Linked DNA regions of Homo sapiens: all the other regions are linked to region 1. Evidence: fine-mapped expression QTL. A gene starts in region 1. Each other region holds a variant in brackets. All regions are shown on one strand. Distances are between the middles of the regions. Region 1 holds the start of SIRPG (signal regulatory protein gamma). Region 2 overlaps SIRPG (signal regulatory protein gamma). Region 3 overlaps LOC124904858 (a long non-coding RNA gene). Region 4 overlaps SIRPG (signal regulatory protein gamma).

Region 1 (5,472 bases):
AAAAAAAATCCAACCTTACTATTCATGAGATAAATGCAAATTAAAACCGCAGTGGGCTATCATCTCACACCTTTAAGAATGGCTATTATCAAAAAGAGGAAATTTAGTATTGGAGAAGATGTGGAGAAAAGGGAACCCTTGCAGACAGTTGGTGGGAATATAAATTAGTAGAGCCATTAGTGAAAACAGTATGCAGGTTCCTCAAGAAATTAAAAATATAACTCTTATCTGATCTGGTAATCTCACTACTGGCATATATCCAAAGGAAATGACATCAGCATGTCACACATATATCTGCACTCCCATGTCCATTGCAGCATTATTTACAAAAGCCAAGATATGGAATCAACCTAGGTGTCTATCAGCAGATAAATGGAGAAAGAAAATGTAGCATATATGCACAATGAAATTCTAATCAGCCTTACAAAAAGGGAAACCCTGTCATTTGCAACAACATGGATGAACCTGGAGGACATTCTGCTAAGTGAAATAAGCCAGGCACGGAAAGACAAACACTGTATGATTTCACGTATGAAGAATCTAAAAAGTTGAGCTCATAGAAGTAGAAAGTAGAATGGTGTTTATCGGGGGCTAGAGAGGGGGTGTAGTTGGGGAGATATTAGTCAAAGGATACAAAATTTCAATTTAAATAAGAGAAATAAGTTCAAGATATCTATTGTACAATGTGGTGTTTATACTTAATAATATGAATTGTATTCTTGAAAACTGCTGAGAGAGCAGAGTTTACGAGTTCTCACAATAAAAAATGATAAATATGTAAGGTAATGCATATGTTTATTAGTTCAAATTAGTCATTCCACAATGTATGCATATTTCTTAATATGTTGTACATAAGTATACATACTTTTGTCAAATAAAAATAAAATAAAATATTTATTTTGTTAAAAATTTCACTGAAAATAGAAAGAGAACCAATGATTAAAAATGAAATCTCATCTGTGCATGTACATGTACATGCATAGGCACATGTGCATATATATGTGTATATAATGTGTATATATACACATTCACAAATATATATAAAAGTTTGGCTTATCATGTTAGTATATAAGGTTGTTTTGTGCATTAATTACAATTATGACAAATTTAAAAATCTCAGTAAAATATTTGGCACATAGAAACCATCCAACACATTTTTAACATTTTGGGAAAACATACATACACTAGTGTTTTACCTCTGATTGTTTCTGACTGGTGTGATGGGTGATTATTAATCTAATGTTTGCTTGCCTGCATTTTCTAATATTTCTACACATAGCATAACATGGTTAAAAGGGTGATAAACTCTGGAACTGGTCAACCTGGACTTGATCCCAACTGCTCCATGGACTGAAGTAGGGGACAATGAACAGGTTCCTGCCTCTGCCTCACTCCCCATTTGCAAATAGAGCACAAGAGTTATAGCTTCCACACAGGGATGCTGTGAGGATTAGTTGACTTAATACACACAAAATGCTAAGAAGTGCATCTGCCTTACAGGAAGAGAGCAATTGCTGAACTATTACTGCTGTCATTTGGGTACAGTGTATGTGTAAAAAAAATAATTTGAAAAGTGAGACCTTGCCCTCTAAGACCTGTGAGATGACATCACAGCAGGGCCCAGTGGGCAACTGAGAGGCTATTGTGCCCAGCCCTGTGACCGGGGGTCAGCTGCATGGTCTGAAAAAGGGGTGAAGACAGGCAGCCTGTCTGGGAGCTGTGAACAGGGCTCTCTCAGGTGGCACCAGGAAAGACCTCCCAATCCTGTCTGCCTGGGGGAAGGGAAAATAAATTCTCCAGAGGAAAGTCAAGATGACCAAGGGAGATGGTGGTGCCTGTTATGGGCTGAATGTGCCCCCAAAACGAATGGGTTGAAGCCCCAATCCCCAGCGCCTTAGAATTTGACCATATTTGGAGACAAGGTCTTTAACCCATTTATGCCCGAGGTTGCAATTTTTTTTTAATTTGAAAAATCAGACCTTGGCGATGCCCTTGAGCAGTAGGATATAAATAACTCCCGCAAGCTTAGTGATCCAATAACGGAGCACTAGGCATAAATGGGTGAAGCAATTTAGTTAAATGAGGTCACTGGCGGGGAGCCTTAATCCAATATGGCTGATGTTCTCATAAGAGAAAATGAGAATACAGACACACACAGAGGAAGACCATGTGTCAAGACACATGGAGGAGATGGCCTTCTACAAGCCAAGGAGAAAGACCTCAGTAGAAACTAACCCTGCTGGCATCTTGATTTTGCAATTCAGCCTCCAGAACTGAAAGAAAGAAAGTAAATGTCTATTGTTTTAGTTACTGAGTCTGTGGTGCTTTGTTGTGGAAGCCCTAAGAAAGGAATATAGGACGCTGTAAGCATGAAATGTGGAACTTCTTAAAGAGGAGGAGGGCACACAAAAATGGGTAGGAGGACTCAAGACAGGTAAGGATTTAATAATGATTCTTCTGTGTTTGTCAAATAAAATATTATAAAAATGTAACTAATTGTGATGGTGGCAGAAGCCTCACAAGGTTTGATGCCTCTGGTAGCCAGCTGCAGATCCACAGAGAAAGTGCTCAGCTCCCTGATCTTCTGCTCTTGGACAATGTCCAGTCCTTGACCTTCCTTGGCAGTGCTTGTGCTTATCTGAAATTGCTGCAAGTCCAGGGGCAAGGCTAGGTCCAGGAAGCAGGGAGAAAGGGTTCTAGCCCAATGCAATGCTCACCTGTAAGTCCCAGCAGTAGAGTCAGAAGCAGGAAAGGACCAGGAGGATGGGGCCAGGAGGCTGGGACAGGCATTTTGGAGACCTCAGAAGCCTGCTCTGTTCAAACGTCTGTTCTGGGGAGATGTCAGGCCCTGCTCTGAAGACAGAAGACAAGCCCTGCCTCCCTCAATTCAAGAGGAAGTGGCTATGATGGAATGCAACAGTAACCTGCTTCTAGATTGTGACTTACAAATCAGGCACAGTAGGCAGCTACAAAGCAAGGAGTTAATCGTGCTCCATTTTCAGGATAATCAGACAGGGTTAGCAGAAATAATGCTTCCTGCCTGCCTGGGACCTGTGCTCCCTCCTCGTGTCCCCAAACCCATTTTCAGGTCTTCTTGGTGATTTGCCATTTGAGGCTTTTAAGTCAAGAAAGATCTGTTGTTAGGTATTGTTTTCTAAAGTCTTTATTTCAAGACCCTAGGATGTGGTTGGCTTGTGGTCTTGTTCTGCACCAGCCTCAACCAAATGCCACTCCGCTGGACGTAGGAGAAGAGTTCACAGGACCTGCTCAACACTGGAGAGGAACCAGATCTTCTCCTGAAATGATTTTCTATTCCAAATTGCTATAATTGGCAACACTTAGCCCAAATTCAGTCTCTTGTGGACCTTAGCACTTTCATGTGCCTGCACCCAGCAGAAGGAATTATTTCTTGACTCCTTCCAGGAGAGAAACTGGGTTTGAGGTAATAAGCAACTGCTTTGTGGAGTGAGGTGGGGATTGTGGGTTATGGAAAGGGGATAGGGTTATCATGAGGGAAGATTATGGTGGGCAGGTTCCTGGGGCCGTCGCATCAATTTCAATACCCTTTCTTCTACACACAGAGCACCTATTTCATTCATCACTGAGTTCGGATGGGAAATGAGGAAAGAGGAAAAATCCATGCTCCTGCCAAGAGTGTGTGCCAAGGAGTTGGGGAAGTCGCTGGGCCCTCCTATGCTCAGTTTCAATCTCCTAAACTGGGAATAGTAAGTCTTTTTGTGCAGTGTTTTAGTGACGATTAAAGAGGTAATGAGCATATCATGCCTGAAACCCAGTAGGTCATTATTGATACTCACGGTGCCAGGTGAAGTGCGGGAACTCAAATGTTGCTTTTGAATGGATCCCTCCTGCATGCTGAGTTGCCCACCAGTGGCTTTCTCCCAGCAACCCAGGCCTCCTGAGACCCAGCTTATATAGTGTATTTGGACTCTCGCTGCCACCCTGAAATCAGTTTCTCCCTCTGGATTCTCTAAATCCCGCTCCTTGTTCAACCATAGATTAATTCCTCCTCTTACAATTTCCAGCTGTGTGATTTTCAAAAAGACACTACTTCTCTGAGCCTTGGTTTGATTGTATGTAAATAAATGTTAGAATATGCACCTTGTAGAGCTATGGTAGGAATAATATAAGCCATACTGAATGCTTGACTCATAATTAATTATAAGCAAAAAAACATGGCTATAATTATTTTCTGTGTACAGGAAGAGTCCACTGGTTCTCTGCCACCGTTGTGCCTTAGAAAAGCCACCTTGTTAAAAGAAATGATTTCTCTTCCAGCATCTATGACTAAGAAAGACCTGTCCAGAATCCTTCATCTCACATGTGGGTTTTAGGTTCTTAATCTGTCATGAATAATTGTCAAATCAAATTGTAAATGTTATCATGTTTTAATTGAAAGTCCTGTTTTAATGTGGCAGATGTACACAGGGTGAAATCTTCCCCTCCTTCTCCACACCCACAGTAGTGAAAACACAAAATGAAAAGAATATATGAATCAATGTCTAATTACACTTGAATACAAGCAATTGGCTTCTATATGACATGAAGGAATTATAACAGCTATCATTTATTGAGAGTTTCCTGTGCTCCAGATATGGTGCCAAGCATTTTTCTATTGGTAATGTCATTAAATCATTGCTCTGACCCCATGAGGTAAGCTCAACCATTAACCTCCTTTCACAGGTGAGAAAACCCGAGGCACATGGAGAGTAATGAATTTGCTCAAGATCACCCGGCTTTTAGAACTGGAACATAGGCTGCCACACTCCACAGCCTTCACTTTTAATGGTTGTACTATGATACCTCTTGCAGGAAGGGAGAGACATCCCTCAGGAAGAAAGCAGAGAAGAAGCTATAGCCTCAATTAGGAGCAGCCCTCATAGTGAGGCTGGGGCAGGTGCCATGCTCCACGAGGCCCTGACAACCCATGATCACATGGGGAATTATTCCTGGGAAGACGGAAGTGCAAGCAAGAATCACCAAAGATTTGAGGAACAGCACTGCAGCTAACAAATTCAAGAAAAACAATAACTCAAAAACAAATAGCAATCAAAAGAACTTCACACCTGAGCAAATATGAAAAAACAAAATGTGTAAAGTTCTTTAAAGTTAGTATACTTAATGATCTTATAAGGAAAACAAAAGAGAAGTAAATTCATAAACCAACATCAGGCATGTAATAATATGAAACAGAAATAGGCGGGCATGAGGTAACAACAACCATCTTGAAAAAATACCAAAACACAGACTTTGGAAATGAAAACATAATCAGTGCTGAAATTTTTTAAAAAAACTTAATAGGTTGACTAGCTGACTATACATAAATAAGTATAATAGTAAGTTAGTAAGCTGGGTGATTATGTAGGGGAAATTTCCTGTGGTACAGCACAGAGACACACCCAAACAAAGTAATGTGGATAGGTAAAAATATACCACAATATTGTGGTATATCTT
Region 2 (5,472 bases), 29 kb before region 1:
CACAGATGCTCACGGAAAGTGTACTCCAAATCTTGTCTCCTGCTGGGATGGGAGAGAAGAAAATGTTCCCAAATGGAAATCCATAGATACGGGTGAGATGGGCTGAGAGGGTGAGGAGACTTACATATAAATACACCTGTGTAGAACAGGCTGCTCTCACCTGTGAGTCCCAATAGCATAAAGAGGCAAGGGTTGTCCAGGTGGGCTGGAAGACAGGTATGGTCATTGCCTGCTCTGTTGAAAGTTTATCACGGAGAGACCCCAGCCTCTGAGCTCTGCAGGGAAGGAGAAGCCCCACCTGCCATGATATCTGAGGAGGGAATTTGCTGTGGAAGGAAAAGGCCACGAGACTGGCATGGTCTCATAGTAAAAGAGGAAGCAGGCAGAGTTGCCACCCCTGGGAAGTTGCTGATATCCACCTTGGGGTTCCCACGCCTGGGAGCCTTGGACAGTAGTGGAGACAGTTTGACTGCTCTGGGCCTGCTCTCTGTCCCAGGGGCACTCACTTCATGCCAGGGTTCCCTTGGCCCTTCCTCAGTTGACAGCCCTGATCCACAGGGCCCTGTAGCTAAGGACTGAGTTTGGATTTTCAGAGACTGTAATTCTGGGTGTGGAAAGTTTGAGGTCTTGTTACTGTAGCAGCCTTTAAGGATGGAACCAAAACTCCTGGATGTCCCCTGCAAAAAGTCCCTAGGGCCAACATCAAGTAACAAGCTGAGCAAATAAGAAATGGCAACTCTTCTCAGGTCTGTCAGAGAAATGAGGTCACAGAGCAGACCATTGTCTCCAAAACTGGAAGTTAGACAAAATGATATAGAGAATTACAACTTCCTGAAGCCAAAACCTCCATGGGAACCAGTGCCAGGGTAGGAAAACCTGCACTGTAATTGAAGAATTGCTAGAGGCTTGGTGTGGGCCAGTCTGAGGAACAGATTCCAGCAGGACCCAATCGCAGGGAACTCCAACACTGTTGTGAGATTTACCTCCAGGAGCTTGATTAGGTGCTCAGAGTGAATATGAGAGAAACATTCACTTGTGCTTCCTGGGGGGTGTGGAGGGGAAAGCGAATCATTCTGAACTACACCAGAGCATTCTTTCTTCTTACCAAGCCCAGCTCTCAGGAGAAACTATTTTACCAGTGCCTAATCTGCTGGGCTTTGATCAGAGCCTAACCTACCTGGGGAAGGCAAGCACCCAACTCCAGCCCCCTCTGGCCATCCTGTCCCACCATAGGGGAAAAAACTGAGAGGCACTTGTGAAGTCCACAGGCCAGGGGCACAGGCTCACATAAGACTGCAACCTCATGTAACTGGTGATGAGCCCATGTGACATTTTTGGGAAACAAATAATTGAAAGAGAGATTGGACAACCACAGTGAAAATGCAGTGAATAAATGAGCAGTGAAAATGCTGGAGATAAAGTTCAAATTGTATGTCAGTGGAGTTATAGAAGCATGAATAGCTGGTGAGGCAACGTAGACCCTGGTAGTGTTTGAAAAACTTCAGATAGGCAGCCCGCAGGACTTAGAGAAGGTGAATTTAACAGATACGGGATGGGGTACTGACAAATAGGGCGAAGGTGTCCCTGAGGATGTGACAACAGCAAAAATCTTCACGTGAAAGGAACTTTTGCAGAGATTTCACGACACTGAAAGTGCAAATGATAAGGTGCTGGAAACAAATCCAAACTTAGAGAGGAAGGTGATAAAACACCCAGATAGAAAGGATGTTTGCTCCATATCCGAAGTGTACAAGAAGGAGGTAAGCACTCTTCCAACTACTCTTGAAACATTTTTACAAAGAAATAAAATACTGAAACACTTGATGTTTCCAATGTTTTGAATTACAGGGTACTAATAAATATTCATTTATTATTTTTTATTGCCTTCTACATTTGTAACTGACACTATGAGAGTTTCCTATATTTTGACAAAAAATTGTAAAGGTCACAATATGATCATTGTTTTTCTGATTGGATGTGGAGATTGCTTTCCTGGGTTTCCGGCTGCACAGTCATTCTTGCAATCTTGCACTGCTGTGAAAAGCGAGGGCTGCCTGTATTCGTTATAATGCTTATGGTAATAAATGCTAAATAAAAATTAATCAAGATAAGAGAAATTAGAATGCCAGGGTAGACAGGAGAATTGATATTATGTACAGGGTGGTTTGCCAAAGGTGCCTTTAATAAAGTGACATTGAGCAGAGGCTTGAAGGAGGGATGAAGGGAGCCATGCAGCTGTGTTGGGGAAGAAGCAGAGGAGTGATACAATTTGACTTTTCCAAAAATCCCTGTAGCTGAAAAATGAAAGCCAACAGAGGCTACAGAAGTGTTCCCGGAAGAGATGATGCTGGCCGGGACAGGGAGGGGTGATGGAGGTGAGAAGTGTGCAGGTTAGGGATGTAACTCAGTGCTCTCCTGCAGCAGGCTTGGACTGGCCCCTGAAAGCCAACCGTTAAGTTTCAGGAATTTTGCAATCCAGTTGTTAAACTTCTGGTAGCTTGAAACTGGCCATGTTGGGGGTGATTATACCACAGAAATTGTCAAGTACAACAAATCAGCTTTTTTTTTCCTTTAAGAGAGTCCATTTTTAAACACTTACCATCTCACGAGTGGACATAAGTATTTTGAAGGCAGAATTGAATATGGGGTGTAAAGAGACATCAGGGAGGATTCGGGAGTCAAGGAGGCTTTTGGACTGCGGCAGCATTTCCGCCATGAGCAGCAGGGCGGGGAAGCCTGCAGGATGCTAGAACTAGTGTTCCCATCACAGAGAGAGCAGGGAGAGCTTCTTTGTTTCTGAGTGTGAGGAGTAGGACCCTTAGACAAAGAGGAAGGATAATCTTTTTATTTTCTTAAAACCACTTTGGGAGTGCATTTGTATTCAAGAGGCAATAGAGAACCTCAACAAGGCTGGGGAGTTGGGATAGGCAGGAATCTGGAAGGCAGGATAACTCTTGAGAACCTGGAGAGCGTCTGTGGTTTACGGTCAGTCTCAAGGCGATGGATGGGAGTCCTGGTGTGTTTAGATTTGGCATGTTTCTCGCCTTCTAGGGAGGTGCCGTTAAGTCAGTGCCCAGAGCCCAATCCCATGGCACCTGCTCAGGACCATGAATGAAGACCTTGCTCTGGGGCATCCAGGTCTGTGTGAAGGAGCAACAGGAGCCTGTGGGCAGGCAGATGTCTTGGGAGGGGAGATGTTTGGAGCCAAGTCTAGAGAAGCTTCTCACTGGCT[C/T]ATTCTCTCAAGCTGAGCCTCTCAGGAAAGGAAGGAGGCAGCAGAGATGAGGGTCCCACGTGGCAGGGGAGGAAGGAAGGAGCTGTAGGAAAACACATCCACACTTAGTCATCTGCTCATCTTTCAAGACATGTTTCCTGAGAGTCTGTTATGTTCTCGGGGCTGGTCTCCTGGGATACCTGTCACTGGTGGACAGGCAGTCCTGATAGAACTCTGCCTGCTCAGCCATCCTGCCAAGTCCTGATGCCCTTTCCAATATTCCTTCCACTCAGACACACAGAGGGTCAGAGCACAAACAGCCTTCAGGGCTTCCCATTTGGGTTTCTCAACATTAGTTTACAATGTGGATTTCTCTGACCCCATGGAGTCCCAGCATTCAAATAATCTACAGATAGCCTGCAAGGGACCACCCACTCATCACTGCCTCCATGAAACTCCTAGGGCACTGTGGACATCTTTGAACACATTTCAAGCATCCCACATTGTACACCACCCACATAATTTCTGTGGGTTGGGAGCCTTTTAAAGGGTTCCCCAAGACTTCCGAGGGTGCGGAGGGAGCTTAACTCCACGGACCCTGGTGCTGCATGGCATGTGGGCTGGGCCTTCCTGTTGGCCTTGCCCTTCTGAGACAGCCCTTGGTCTGTCCTCCCTTCCTTGTACTTACAGTCAGGTCTTCTGCTTCCAGGGGACGTAGATGGGGCCCAGGAGGACAGCTATGAGGAGCAGCGCAGTAAGGGATGATGCCGGGCCTGGAAATCAGGGAAGACGAGGGGCTATGAGAGAGACCACTTGGGAGGCCATTGTAGGGGCCTCCACTTACCCCATCTGAGGCTGCCTGGGCCCATCTATGCCCCACCTTTGAACCTGCATCCTGCCCAGGCTATCTTCACTCCAGCACAAGGCAGAAGCCACAGAAAGAGGCTCCCCATTCTCACTCATCCTGTCCCAGGTTGCCAGCTTATTCTCCTGGAGGGAAGAGGTGGAGGGGGTGTGTACTCAGGTATTCATACATGTGGCAACGGGGTTCCTCACTTGACCCTCACAAGCCTATGGGAGCAGGGATTGTCATTCCATTCTGCTAGGGAAACTGAGGCCCATGGATTTTAGGGAGGGTCACAAGGTTACTTGCATTCAAACCTAAAGAAGCTCATCACTAGTGTTCCTTAGGTTGATCCCTGAGACCATGTCCTTTGGAACAAAACAAGTCCAAATTCCTAGGGACATTTTAATGACTATAAAAGGGTAGGCAGGTGGCTTGAGGATGGCTTCACAATGAGAGTTGCAGGTTCCCTGCTTAGCCCCAGAAGTAAGGGGAGGACTCCGTGTTCTCAGAACTTGGAGGAGCCATGGAACACTGGACATAATGAAACCTTCCGGCTAGAAAACATCCTGGTGAGTCACGGAAATGGGTCTCATGCTTGGGAGGGCCTCAGATGTCACCTAGGCCACCTCCACCCCAGTGCAGGTGTCATCTGAAATCTTTCTGTTAGTTGGGCACACTCAGTTACGGGGAAGCACATGTTTGGACGCTGCATTTTTAACATGAGCAGTTCAGGCTTTTAAAATCAACATTTTTAACGCGAGCAGTTTGGGCCATTAAAGATATTACAGTATATTTTAAATAAATAAAATGGTGCTGGTGGGTCCTTAAGGAAGAAATGGAGAACTCAGCATCTGTGGCTGCTGGGGTGTTGGAGGCCGGCAGTTCTCAGCTGGGTGGCTCTCTGGGACTTCTTCTCCCTTGAGGAAAGCTGCACTGCCCAATTCCAAGTTCACTCCTCCTTCTAGGGGACAGCCCACAAGAAAGATTGGCTGAATTGAAAATAGGAAGGCCACGCTTCTCTCCTCAATTAAAAAACACTACATGACGCTCTCAGCCCTTGGGATCCTCCGCAGGAGCAGCTGGGTCTTTGTTCTACCTGCACTGTAGCTCAGCACCTCGCTCCTCCTACAGTCCTGCCTCCCCATTTCCTGAGGCATGCTGACCCTACAGCTCTTCAGGATGCTTCCTGCATTCCTGTATCCATCTCTAGTCTGCCTTACAGAGAAACTGACCTTGGTAAGTTGTCTGTAAAGCTTACTCTAAAATATAAATTTGAAGCCTGAATACTCATCAGCTCGCAATGAGGACCTCAGGGCTGGCAGTGAGTGGGGCTGGGCACCATGGCTGGGATGCAATTGATAAAACTTTCACTGGCAGTAAGCTGGGATGGCGTAACCACAGGCAGGAAATTCCT
Region 3 (5,472 bases), 74 kb after region 1:
GATAAAACCAGGAGCCGCTGAATATTAAGAGCCTGAGAACTGCTTGGGTGATTTGACTAATAAAAGGCCGGTTCATTATCAGACTGTTTAGAGGTGGGAAGGCCAAACCGAGGAATTATGTCTGACGGTAGGGAAGAAATGACTGCGGTGGCCTTCTGAGACCTTGTGGGAAAGGCCTCTACCCACCCAGTGAAAGTGTCTACCCAGACCAAAAGGTATTTTAGTTTCCTGACTTGGGGCATGTGAGTAAAGTCAATTTTCCAGTCCTGGGCAGGGGCAAATCCCCAAGCTTGATGTGTAGGGAAGGGAGGGAGCCTGAACAATCCATGAGGACTAGTAGAATAGCCAATGGAACGCTGAGAAGTGATTTCCTTGAGGATAGATTTCCACAATGGAAAGGAAATAAGAGGTTCTAAGAGGTGGGATAGCAGCTTGCAACCTACAAGGAAGACGTTATGAAATGACGACAGAATAGAATCGGCCTGTGAGGCTGAAAGGAGATATTTCCCTTGGTCTAAGAACAATTTGCCTTGTGTGGGAAGAGATTGATAGGTGGAAGTTTCAGTGGCGGAGTAGGTGGGAGTTACTGATGAGGAGAAAAACTGGCTGTGAAGGACTGAAGTTGGAACACTAGCTGCTTCTTTAGCTACCTTATCGGCATAAGTGTTGCCCTGAGTGATGGGATCTGATGCCTTTTGATGGCCTTTGCAGTGAATGACTCCAGCTTCCTTTGGAAGTAAAGTGGTCTTGAGAAGAGTTTTTATTAAAGAGGCATTAATGATGGAGGACCCTTACGTAGTGAGGAAACCTCTTTCTGCCCATATAATAGCATGGTGGTGCAGGATATGGAAGGCATATTTAGAGTCAGTATAAACATTGACATGTACTCCTTTTGCAAGAGTGAGGGCCTGAGTTAAGGCAATGAGTTTGGCTTGCTGAGAGGTAGTGGAGGGGGCAGAGCAGGAGCCTCAATGATAGATGTGGAAGATACTATAGCAAAGCCTGCCTTTGCTGGTGAGTGGCGATTAGGCCTGGTGGAACTGACATCAATAAACCAAGTGTGATCAGGGTGAAGAACAGGAAAGAAGAAAATATAGAGAAATGGAGTAAATGTCAGGTGGATCAGAGAGATACAGTCATGGGGGTCAGGTGTGGTATCTGGAATAATGTGGGAGCCAGTCTAAAACAGTGAGGTCAAGTAGTTTGGATAGGAAGGCTACAGGGCGTGGTCCTGGCTCTTGTGTAAGAATTTCAACCGCACAGCCCTGTACTTCGGCTGTGTGTAATGAAAAGGGTTGGGATGAGTTAAGGAGAGCTAGTGTGAGAGCAGCTTCTAGGGCTGTTTTTAAGGAACGGAAAGATGAGTGGTGAAAGGATTTAGGATCTATGGGGTCAGCTAGGTTTGTTTTTGTGAGTTTGTATAATGGTTTAGTCAGGATGGTAAAACTAGGTATCCAAAGGTGAAACTATCCAACCATGCCCAGGAAGGAAAGGAGTTGTTGTTTTGTAGAAGGGGTTGGGGTTTGAAAGTTTAGCTGGACATGCTCAGCAGGGAGAGCATGTGTGTTTTCATGAAGAATTATGCTGAGATAGGTAATGGATGAGGAAGAAATTTGGACTTGACTGAAGTAATGGGGGCTGTCCATGAAGCCTTGCAGTAGTATAGCCCAGGTAATTTGCTGAGCCTGATGAGTGTCAGGGTCAATCCAAGTGAAAGTGAAGAGAGGCTGGGCTGAAAGGTACAAAGGAATAGTAAAGAAAGCATGTTGGAGATCCAGAACAGAATAATGGGTTGCGGAGGGATGTATTGAGGATAGGAGAGTATCTGAGTTTGGCACCACGGGGTGGATAGGCAAGACAATTTGGTTGATAAGGTGCAGATCCTGAACTAACCTGTAAGACTTGTCCAGTTTTTGGACAGTTAAATGAGGGAATAGTAAGGGGAGTTTATAGGCTTTAAAAGGCCATGCTGTAACAGGAAAGTGATACCAGGGTTTAATCCTTTTAAAGCATGCTGTGGGATGGGATACTGGCATTGATCAGGTAAGGGTGATTAGGTTTTAATGGGATGGTAAGGGGTGCATGATCGGTCACCAAAGAGGGAGTAGAGGTGTCCCAAAATGGTGGATTAAGATGGGGAGATACAAGGGGAGGATGTGAAGGAGGCTTTGAACTGGGGAAAAGGGCGGCAATGAGGTGTGGCTGTAGCCTAGGAATAGTCAGGGAAGGAGATAATTTAGTTAAAATGTCTCAACCTAATAAGGGAGCTGGGCAGGTAGGGATAACTTAAAAGAAGTGCATAAAAACTGTTCTTCAAGTTGGCATCAGAGTTGGGGAGTTTTAAAGAGGTTTAGAAGCCTGGCCGTCAATACCCACAACAGTTATGGAGGCAAGGGAAACAGGCCCTTGAAAATAAGGTACTGTGGAGTGGGTAGCCTCCGTATTGATTAAGAAGGGGACGGACTTACCCTCCACTGTAAGAGTTACCCAAAGCATCTGTGATGGTCCAGGAGGCTTCCGAGGTGATTGGGCAATGTCAGTCTTCAGTCACTAAGCCAAGAAGATCTGGGAAGGAGTCAGTCAGAGAGCCTTGGGCCAGAGTTCCAGGGGCTCTGGGAGTGGCTGCCTGGTGAGTTGGACAGTCCGATTTCCAGTGAAGTCCCACACAGATGGGGCACAGCTTAGGAGGAATCCTGGGCTGCAGGCATTCCTTGGCCCAGTGGCCAGATTTCTGGCACTTAAAGCAAGATCCTGGGGGAGGAGGTCCTGAAGGAATGCCTGACCACTGTGGATTTAGGTGTTTTGAAGTTCTTGTGTATTGGAGATGTGGCTGGGGTTTCTCTCACAGTGGAGGCAAGTAATTGCAACTCTTTTCTATTATTGTACACCTTGAAGGCGAGGTTAATTAATTCCTTTTGTGGGGTTTGAGGGCCGGATTCTAATTTTTGAAGTTTTTTTTAATGTCAGGAGCTGACTGGGTGATAAAATGCATATTGAGAATAAGACGGCCTTCTGACCTTTCAGGGTCTAGCGTTGTAAAGCATCTCACGGTTGCTGCCAAACCAGCCATGAACTGGG[C/A]GGGGTTTTCATGTTTACTTTGGGTAGTTTCTTTAAGCTTTGTTCTTTAACAGTTCTTTAACAGCTTTGTAAGCTGCCTTTTTACACCCTTCAACTAGGCAGGAAATTATATAATCTTGCCTAGCTATACCTGGGGAATCTGCCTGATAGTTCCATTGGGGATCCTCTCGGGGAACTGCTCTAATGCCTTCCTGGAGGTCTGGCTCTTGAAGCCGGCAGTTATCAGCGTGAGATTGGGCTGGAGAAAAAACTCTTTCCCATTCATCTGGGGATAGGGTAGAAGTTAGGATGACATTTCAGTCACTCCAGGTTAAATTGTAGGACAGAGTTAGATATTGGAATTCCTGTATATATTTAGTGGGGTCTGATGAGAAAGAGCCTAAACACTGGCTGATCTGAGAGAGGTCTGATAGAGAAAAAGGCACATGTACCCTGACTATGCCTTCAGTTCCAGCCACCGCTCTAAGAGGAAATTGTTGGGCAGGTGGGGGAGGGCTAGTCTCAGAATGAAACTGTAAGCTGAACCAGGTGTGCACAGGGGAGGTGATAGAAGGATTATAGGGTGGAGGAGCAGAGGCCAAGGAAGAATCGGAGCCTGATTTAGCTTGGCGGGGAGCGACCTGAAGAGGAGCAGTCTGGGGAGGAGGGGAGAGGTCACATGGGTCAGTAGGAAAGGAAGATTGAAAAGACTCAGCGATGCTTGGGGTTGGGACTGAGGGAACAGGTGGGGGGGAAAGAAGGAGGATTTGGGGTGAGTCACATTGGGAACAGAGACTAGGGAGGGACCGATGTGTAAAAGAATGCCTGGATGTCAGGCACCTCAGACCATTTGCCCATTTTATGACAAGAATTATCTAGATCTTGTAGGATGGAGAAATTGAAAGTGCCGTTTTCTGGCTATTTGGAACCATCGTCGAGTTTGTTTTGGAGTCAAACAGCATTGCAGAAGAAAATAAGGTGTTTAGGTTTTAGGTCAGGTGTGAGCTGAAGAGGTTTTAAGTCTTTGAGAACACAGGCTAAGGGAGAAGAGGGAGGAATGGAGGGTGGATGGTTGCCCATAGTGAAGGAGGCAAGCCCAGAGAAAAGAGAGGGTAGAGACATGGAGAGAAGGGGTGGGGGGTATTTGTGCCCCAGCAAAGTGGTACTTGCCACTAAGGTGAAGGATCAAGGCAGGCGTCCCTGCGGTGATCAGACACCTCTGAAACGTGGGTGAATAATCAGGCAGGCATCCCGCAGTGATTAAACACCAAGGGAAGACTGTCTTCCCGAGCCTGTGACTGGTGCCGGAGTTTTGGGTTCATGGATAAAACGCATCTCCTCTGTCTCTACCAGAAAAGGAAAGGAACTGAAATTAAGGGAAGAGAGAGATTGAAGGGTGGCGCCAAGATTGAAAGGAGAAAGAGGTTAAGGGATAGTGAGAGAGGTTGGAGAAGAGAGTAAAAAGAGGCCACTCACCCGATTTAAAATTGGTGAGATGTTCCTTGGGCTGCTTGGTCTGAGGACCCGAGGTCATAGGTGGATCTTTCTCACAGAGCAAAGAGCAGGAGGACAGGGGATTGATCTCCCAAGGGAGGTCCCCCGATCAGAGTCATGGCACCAAATGTCACGTGCATCCATGTGAAGAGACCACTAAACAGTCTTTGTGTGAGCAATAAAGCTTTTTAATCACCTGGGTGCAGGCAGGCTGAGTCTGAAAAGAGAGTCAGCAAAGGGAGATAGGGGTGAGGCCATTTCATAGGATTTGGGTGGGTAGTGGAAAATTACAGTCAAAGGGTGTTTTTCTCTTGTGGGCAGGGGTGGGGGTCACAAGGTGCTCAGTGCGGGAGCTTCTGAGGCAGGAGAAGGAATTTCACAAGGTTAATCACCCAGTTAAGGTGGGGCAGGAATAAATCACAATGGTGGAGTGTCATCAATTAAGGCAGGCACCGGCCATTTTCACTTCTTTTGTGATTCTTCACTTGCTTCAGGCCATCTGGATGTATTCATGCAGGTCACAGGGGATATGATGGCTGAGCTTGGGCTGGAGGCCTGACAGAAAGCATAATGCTACCCTTAGATTACATAATGATTTAAAAACAATACACAGCAGGAAAAAGTAAAGGGTAATTAAATAAATTCTGGGTACATCCGTATTTTAATATAAATTGCACAAAAACCTTTTAATCTGAGGAATGCAATGCCCCTTTCAATTATCAGGCCCAGAGAGGCACTGGAATGAGAAAGCAGTCATGTCCCACTTCCCTCCTTCAGCTAAGTAACCATCTCTTGAGGCTGCTTGCCATGTGGACTCTAGACTGACTGATGCCCCAGGTAGATACAATTTAATGTAACAATGCCATATGTGGACACTATAAGTCATATTCTATAGTTAAATAACGTATAAAGGTTACTAAT
Region 4 (5,472 bases), 21 kb before region 1:
TACTGACCTTGTCCTCAGGGACCCAGATTTACTTTAATTAGTTTGAACCAATAACCCGATCTAAAGGCAAGAGGTCTTCAACAACATCCCCCATGACTTCCCAAGTCCTAGTTTCCCCTTCTTTAAAACTCCAGACTTACTGGGTGGTTGAAGCAAAAACAGAGATCATGGATGAATGGAAATTTGCACTTAGTAAATTTGCAGAGGGGTTTGTGATTATTGTTGCTCAAATATCACAATCAGGACACAGAAGAGGTCCGTTCTGTGACCATTCATGGTCACCTGCAGGCCTGGTACAGTTTTTTTTTTTTTTTTTGACAGAGTCTCGCTCTGTCGCCCAGGCTGGAGTGCAGTGGCATGATCTCGGCTCACTGCAAGCTCCGCCTCCTGGGTTCACACCATTCTCCTGCCTCAGCCTCCCGAGTAGCTGGGACTACAGGCGCCCGCCACCACGCCCGGCTCATTTTTTTGTATTTTTAGTAGAGATGGGGTTTCACCGTGTTAACCAGGATGGTCTCGATCTCCTGACCTCGTGATCCGCCCGCCTCGGCCTCCCAAAGTGCTGGGATTACAGGCGTGAGCCGCCAGGCCTGGTACAGTTTTAAACTACATTTGTCTTTCTGAAACATACACAGCAGATGTCAGGGTGTACTGGGATGAGGTCATAAATGAGGATGGAAAAGTTTGGATGAAACAGAAACAAAGCAGAGGTTAGAAAAAGTAGGGAGCACAAGGGTGGGCTGATGAGAAACGGGCACAACAACTCTCAAGGAATAAGGGAAGGCAAAGGACTCTATGAGAAGATGGTTCCCCCTGCCTGCCTCTTTGCTCCTTAAATATATATTTATGTACGCCAGGCGCGGTGGCTCACGCCTGTAATCCCAGCACTTTGGGAGGCTGAGGCGGGCGGATCACGAGGTCAGGAGATCGAGACCATCCTGGCTAACACGGTGAAACCCCATCTCTACTAAAAATACAAAAAATTAGTCGGGCGTGGTGGCGGGCGCCTGTAGTCCCAGCTACTCGGGAGGCTGAGACAGGAGAATGGCGTGAACCCGGGAGGCGGAGCTTGCGGTGAGCAGAGATCGCGCCACTGCACTCCAGTCTGGGCGACAGAGCCAGACTCCGTCTCAAAAAAAAAAAAAATTAAACATATATTTATGTCAAAAGTTCTATTAACTTGTGCATCAAATTCTTACTAGTCATGACTCTTCGCATGTGGGATTTGGGGGGATGGAGCTGACATTAAAATTTTACTTTGTATTTATAGACTTCTAGCTTATTTTACAGCAAGTGTGGATATTACTTTTAAAATGAGAGAAAAAGACAAAATTTAAAAATTTTGAGTAACCTCACCAGGGGTAGCATCTGAGCTCTGGTCCTTCTGGTGGACTGTGACCTCTAGGGCAAGGCGTTTGCTGACCGCCAGCTGCCCATCATGCTTCACCTGGCAGGTGAGGACCACATCATCCCTTTGGTCAGATATGTTCACCAGGAACCAGCTTGTCCAGTTGTAGGTACCATCCTTGTTCTCTGTAAGGGTCGAGGCTGTTTCTCTCTGGCACACGTTTCCATTCTCCGACCAGGTCAGCTGTAGGCTCTGGGGGTAGAACTTCCTCACCTGGCAGGTGACGTTTACCTGGTTCCCCACCCTCATGGGCTGTTGAGTAACCTCCAAGGTGGGTGGAACTGAAACAGCACAGGGTAGAAGCTCTGATCTTCTGGCACAGACAGATCACAGGGAGGGCTCCATAACTTAACTCCCACTACCACGGTGAGGGCATCACCAGGACAGTGCTAGGCAGGCAGCAGATGCTAAGACATTGAGGGCGCTCTTTGCATATGAATGAAATTACCAAGCACAGTGCCTGGTGCACAGTAGGTGCTCAAGGACTGGTAGCTCCTACTAGGCTAAGAATGAGTGAAATCTACAAGCACAACCCCTGGCATGCAGTTGGAATGTAAGAACTGTAGCAAAATCAGTGAAATCGCCGAGCACATAGGGACTTGGCTCATAGTAGGTACTCACTAATAGTAGTTGTTCTTGGTGAGATAAATGAAACTCTCTAGCGCAGAGCTTGGCACGTGATTGCTGGTCCCCTGACCGCTGCCAATAAAATGATAGTAAGTGACCAGCACACCTAGGTGCATGGCGGGCGGGCAGTATAGTCAGGGATTAGATTACAGGCCATTCAACCTCTGGAGCAACAGCCTGGGGAGAGGGGAGTGGGCTTGACAGCCAGGTGTGGGCTTGGGCTGGGTGTGAGGGTCCTCTACCTCGGATGGCCTCAGACAAGTTGGCAGTCCCACGAAGAGGGTCCCCCTGCAAGGTGACATGGGCCACCTCGCAGATGACCTGAGAGCGAACGTCCCAGGGGTCCAGTACCACCCTGGCTGTGCTGCGGATGCTGTAGGCCACACTCTGTCCTGTGGGGTCCACGTTGGTCTGGAAGTCTGAGAGCTCATTCCCATTTTTGAACCATTTCAGGGTGATGTCTCTGGGAGAGAAGCCATGGGACTCACAGGTGAAACTCACTGTATGCTCAGGTGTGGTCCTCGCCGCAGGGCCCAATACCACGGGGGCAGAGGGTTTGGCTACAAAAGGG[G/T]CATCGATAAACAGGAGACATGACTGAGATGACAATCACTAACGATGAGTGTGTGACACTGTTAAGAACCTTCAGATACATTAATTTTAATCCTTCTAATAATGTGGAGAGGATGGTGTTCTTATTCTCATTTTACAGAGCAGGATGCAAAGGTTGGAAGAGGTGACGACCAGCCCCAGGTCAGACAGTGTAGGGAAAGGTCCCAGAGGGAAGTCCAGGTCTGAGTTCAAAGTCCTCCTCTCCACATAGGGTGACTTCCACCAATCTGGGCACAGGAACAAAGTTACTGATTGTTCTCCCTCTGTGTATTAACTGGTGCTAGCCTGTTTCCCCAGGAGAGCTCACCAACCTCAGAGAGGGTGTTTACAGAAGCCAAAGTAGGGAACAATGGCAAAGTGGCGCCACCATGAGACCTGCAACCAGGCTGCTCAGCCCATGAGAGGGGTGGCCTGGAACATGCAGCCCCTCATCTGCAAAGTGGGACAGCAGCATTTTCCCTTCCCAGGGGTGCAACAAGGATTAAATGGGGCCATGGAAGAAGTTTTGCTTTGGATCAAAGTCAGAAGATGCTTCATAAAAATAAACACAGATCTGTCTTTAATCCAGACTTGACATATACCTAGAGCTCTCTCTCTTTGTGTATTTATGAATTTATTCCATATTTTTCATTCTTTTCACAAATATTCCAGTACAGTTTTTGAAAGAAAATGAAGTAGTTAAGGCTAAAGCTTTAACATGGAGTCAAGCGTTTGTAAGAGCATTGCACTCACACCTGCTAAAGGTCAAGCCACAGGATGTTGCTGTAGACCTGGATAACAATGGACTGAAGTCAAGGTACATGGGATTTTGATTTCTCTCATCCTGGAGTGTCCTAATTAAGTAACCAATTCATACGAGTTTGCAGTTTAGCATTTCTGCCAGGCAATGAACTGTTTTCAAAAACAACATTTTGTGAAAGTCCCCAGTACAAAACTTTTCCTGCATTGCCCTATGGGACACTGTTCAGGACTACCATGACTCAGGGTTCCCAAATTGCAACTCTTTATTTCCCAGATAAATGCTATTTCCTTTGGCCTTCCTATCAATCATTATTTTTTTTAGTTAGCAGGTCTAATCTGTGCCAAGTCCCAAATTTGAAAAGAGGGAAGGTTTCTTGGAATCTAGGTCTTCAGTTGGGCCAGGTTGGGTCCAAAAACAATGATCACTGAGTACTAAGAAAGCCAAAGGTGGGTGATTTCTTCATCGTTAATTCATTACAAGAGACAAAGATCTAGGCCACCCCAACAGGCAGAAATCTATCCTGGGTCCTGAAAGCACACAAACTGGAGAATCAGAAAAATGAGGGTAGTTTCTCCCTGTAGATGAGTCCTAAACGTGTCTCCAAATTGCTAATTATTACCCTGCACCTCCTATAGCAGTCATCAGGAAACACATATTAGGCATACTTGCATTTGTAAATATTAACTTGCTCCCTACCACATGCAAACATTTTATGGGCACAGTAAGAAGGGTGTCACTTGAAGAAGTCAAGTCATCAAGACACCAGCAGCATTGGGCATCCCTAGAGGGCTGAGAGGCTGTAACCAGTTGCCATTTATTGAGGGCTTCTTGGGAGCCTGATGCTGGCTGCTCCCTCTGTACCTCTCAGCTCTTTAATCCTCCCTTTATTGCCTTGAGGGGGTCCTCGTGTGAGTCCCTTATAGGACCAGGGTCTGAGGGGACCCCAGCTAGCAAAGGGCCAAAAGTGGATAAAAAACCCACCCTGGTAAGGTGAGGGAGGATGAAGGCAAGCACGGAGCCTGGTATGCAGCAGGTGCTTAATAAATGAGCCCTATGGCTGTTATCAAGAGGTTTGGTCATTACTACTTCTGAATCTACACACTTATTCTTTAGGCAGCAGAACATAGAGGAGTAGAAACACCAAGAAAAGGCTCAAATCCTGCTCCCTGCAGCTCATGAAAAACTCAAATGATAATAAAAGCAAAACCACCAAGTCTGGACAACTGGCTTTCAAAAAAAAATAAGATCATAGGTAAAGCTGGAAGCATTTTGGAAGGAGGAGGGAACAGAGTCCTCTGTGACATCTTTTTATTATTATTATTTTACTTTAAGTTCTGGGATACAAGTGCAGAATATGCAGGTTTGTTTTATAGGTTATGTTTGCCATGGTGGTTTGCTGCACTTATCAACCCATCATCTAGATTTTAAGCCCTGCATGCATTAGCTATTTGTCCTAATGCTCTCCTTCCCCTCACCCCCCCACCCCTTGACTGGCCCTGGTGTGTGTTGTTCCCCTCCCTGCGTCCATGTGTTCACATTGTGCAACTCCCACTTATGAGTGAGAACATGTGGTGTTTGCTTTTCTGTCCCTGTGTTAGTTTGCTGAGGATAATGGCTTCCAGCTTCATCCATGGCCCCGCAAAGGACATGAACTCATTCTTTTTTATGGCTGCATAGTATTCCATGGTGTATATGTACCACCTTTTCTTTGTCCAGTCTATCACTGATGGGCATTTGGGTTGGTTTCATGTCTTTGCTATTGTAAATAGTGCTGCAATAAACATACATGTGCATGTGTCCTCATAGTAGAATGATTTATATTCCTTTGGTTACATACCCAGTAATGGGATTGCTGGGTCAAATGGTATCTCTGGTTCTTGATCCTTAAGGAGTCACCACACTGTCTTCCACAATCGTTGAACTAATTTACATTCCCACCAAGAATGTAAAAACGCTCCTATTTTTCCACAGCATCACCAGCATCTATTGTTTCCTAACTTTTTAATAATCACCATTCTGACTGGCATGAGATGGTATCTCATTGTGGTTTTGATTTTCATTTCTCTAATGATCAGTGATGTTGAGC

The links. PIP is the estimated chance that this variant, and not a neighbour inherited with it, causes the effect.
Region 2: its variant is fine-mapped to the expression of SIRPG in whole blood (TOPMed, PIP above 0.99).
Region 3: its variant is fine-mapped to the expression of SIRPG in whole blood (TOPMed, PIP above 0.99).
Region 4: its variant is fine-mapped to the expression of SIRPG in whole blood (TOPMed, PIP above 0.99).

The regions. Positions count from the first base shown.
Region 1 is chr20:1,654,925-1,660,396 of GRCh38, forward strand. SIRPG (signal regulatory protein gamma) reads right to left here and starts at 2,855. Exons shown (of 6, transcript NM_018556.4): 1 at 2,718-2,855. The coding sequence starts at 2,790.
Region 2 is chr20:1,626,323-1,631,794 of GRCh38, forward strand. It overlaps SIRPG (signal regulatory protein gamma), which reads right to left. Exons shown (of 6, transcript NM_018556.4): 5 at 3,900-3,984; 6 at 2,830-3,314. The coding sequence ends at 3,902. Among named protein-coding and RNA genes, the nearest start is that of SIRPG-AS1, 4.4 kb to the right of the region's middle. The variant C/T (reference allele first, on the strand shown) is at 3,233.
Region 3 is chr20:1,728,459-1,733,930 of GRCh38, forward strand. It overlaps LOC124904858 (a long non-coding RNA gene), which reads right to left. Exons shown (of 3, transcript XR_007067498.1): 3 at 4,718-4,768. Among named protein-coding and RNA genes, the nearest start is that of SIRPG, 73 kb to the left of the region's middle. The variant C/A (reference allele first, on the strand shown) is at 3,079.
Region 4 is chr20:1,633,911-1,639,382 of GRCh38, forward strand. It overlaps SIRPG (signal regulatory protein gamma), which reads right to left. Exons shown (of 6, transcript NM_018556.4): 3 at 2,278-2,595; 4 at 1,357-1,689. SIRPG-AS1 (SIRPG antisense RNA 1) reads left to right here. Exons shown (of 3, transcript NR_110090.1): 2 at 3,296-3,440. Among named protein-coding and RNA genes, the nearest start is that of SIRPG-AS1, 3.1 kb to the left of the region's middle. RefSeq lists an enhancer at 1,180-2,005. The variant G/T (reference allele first, on the strand shown) is at 2,607.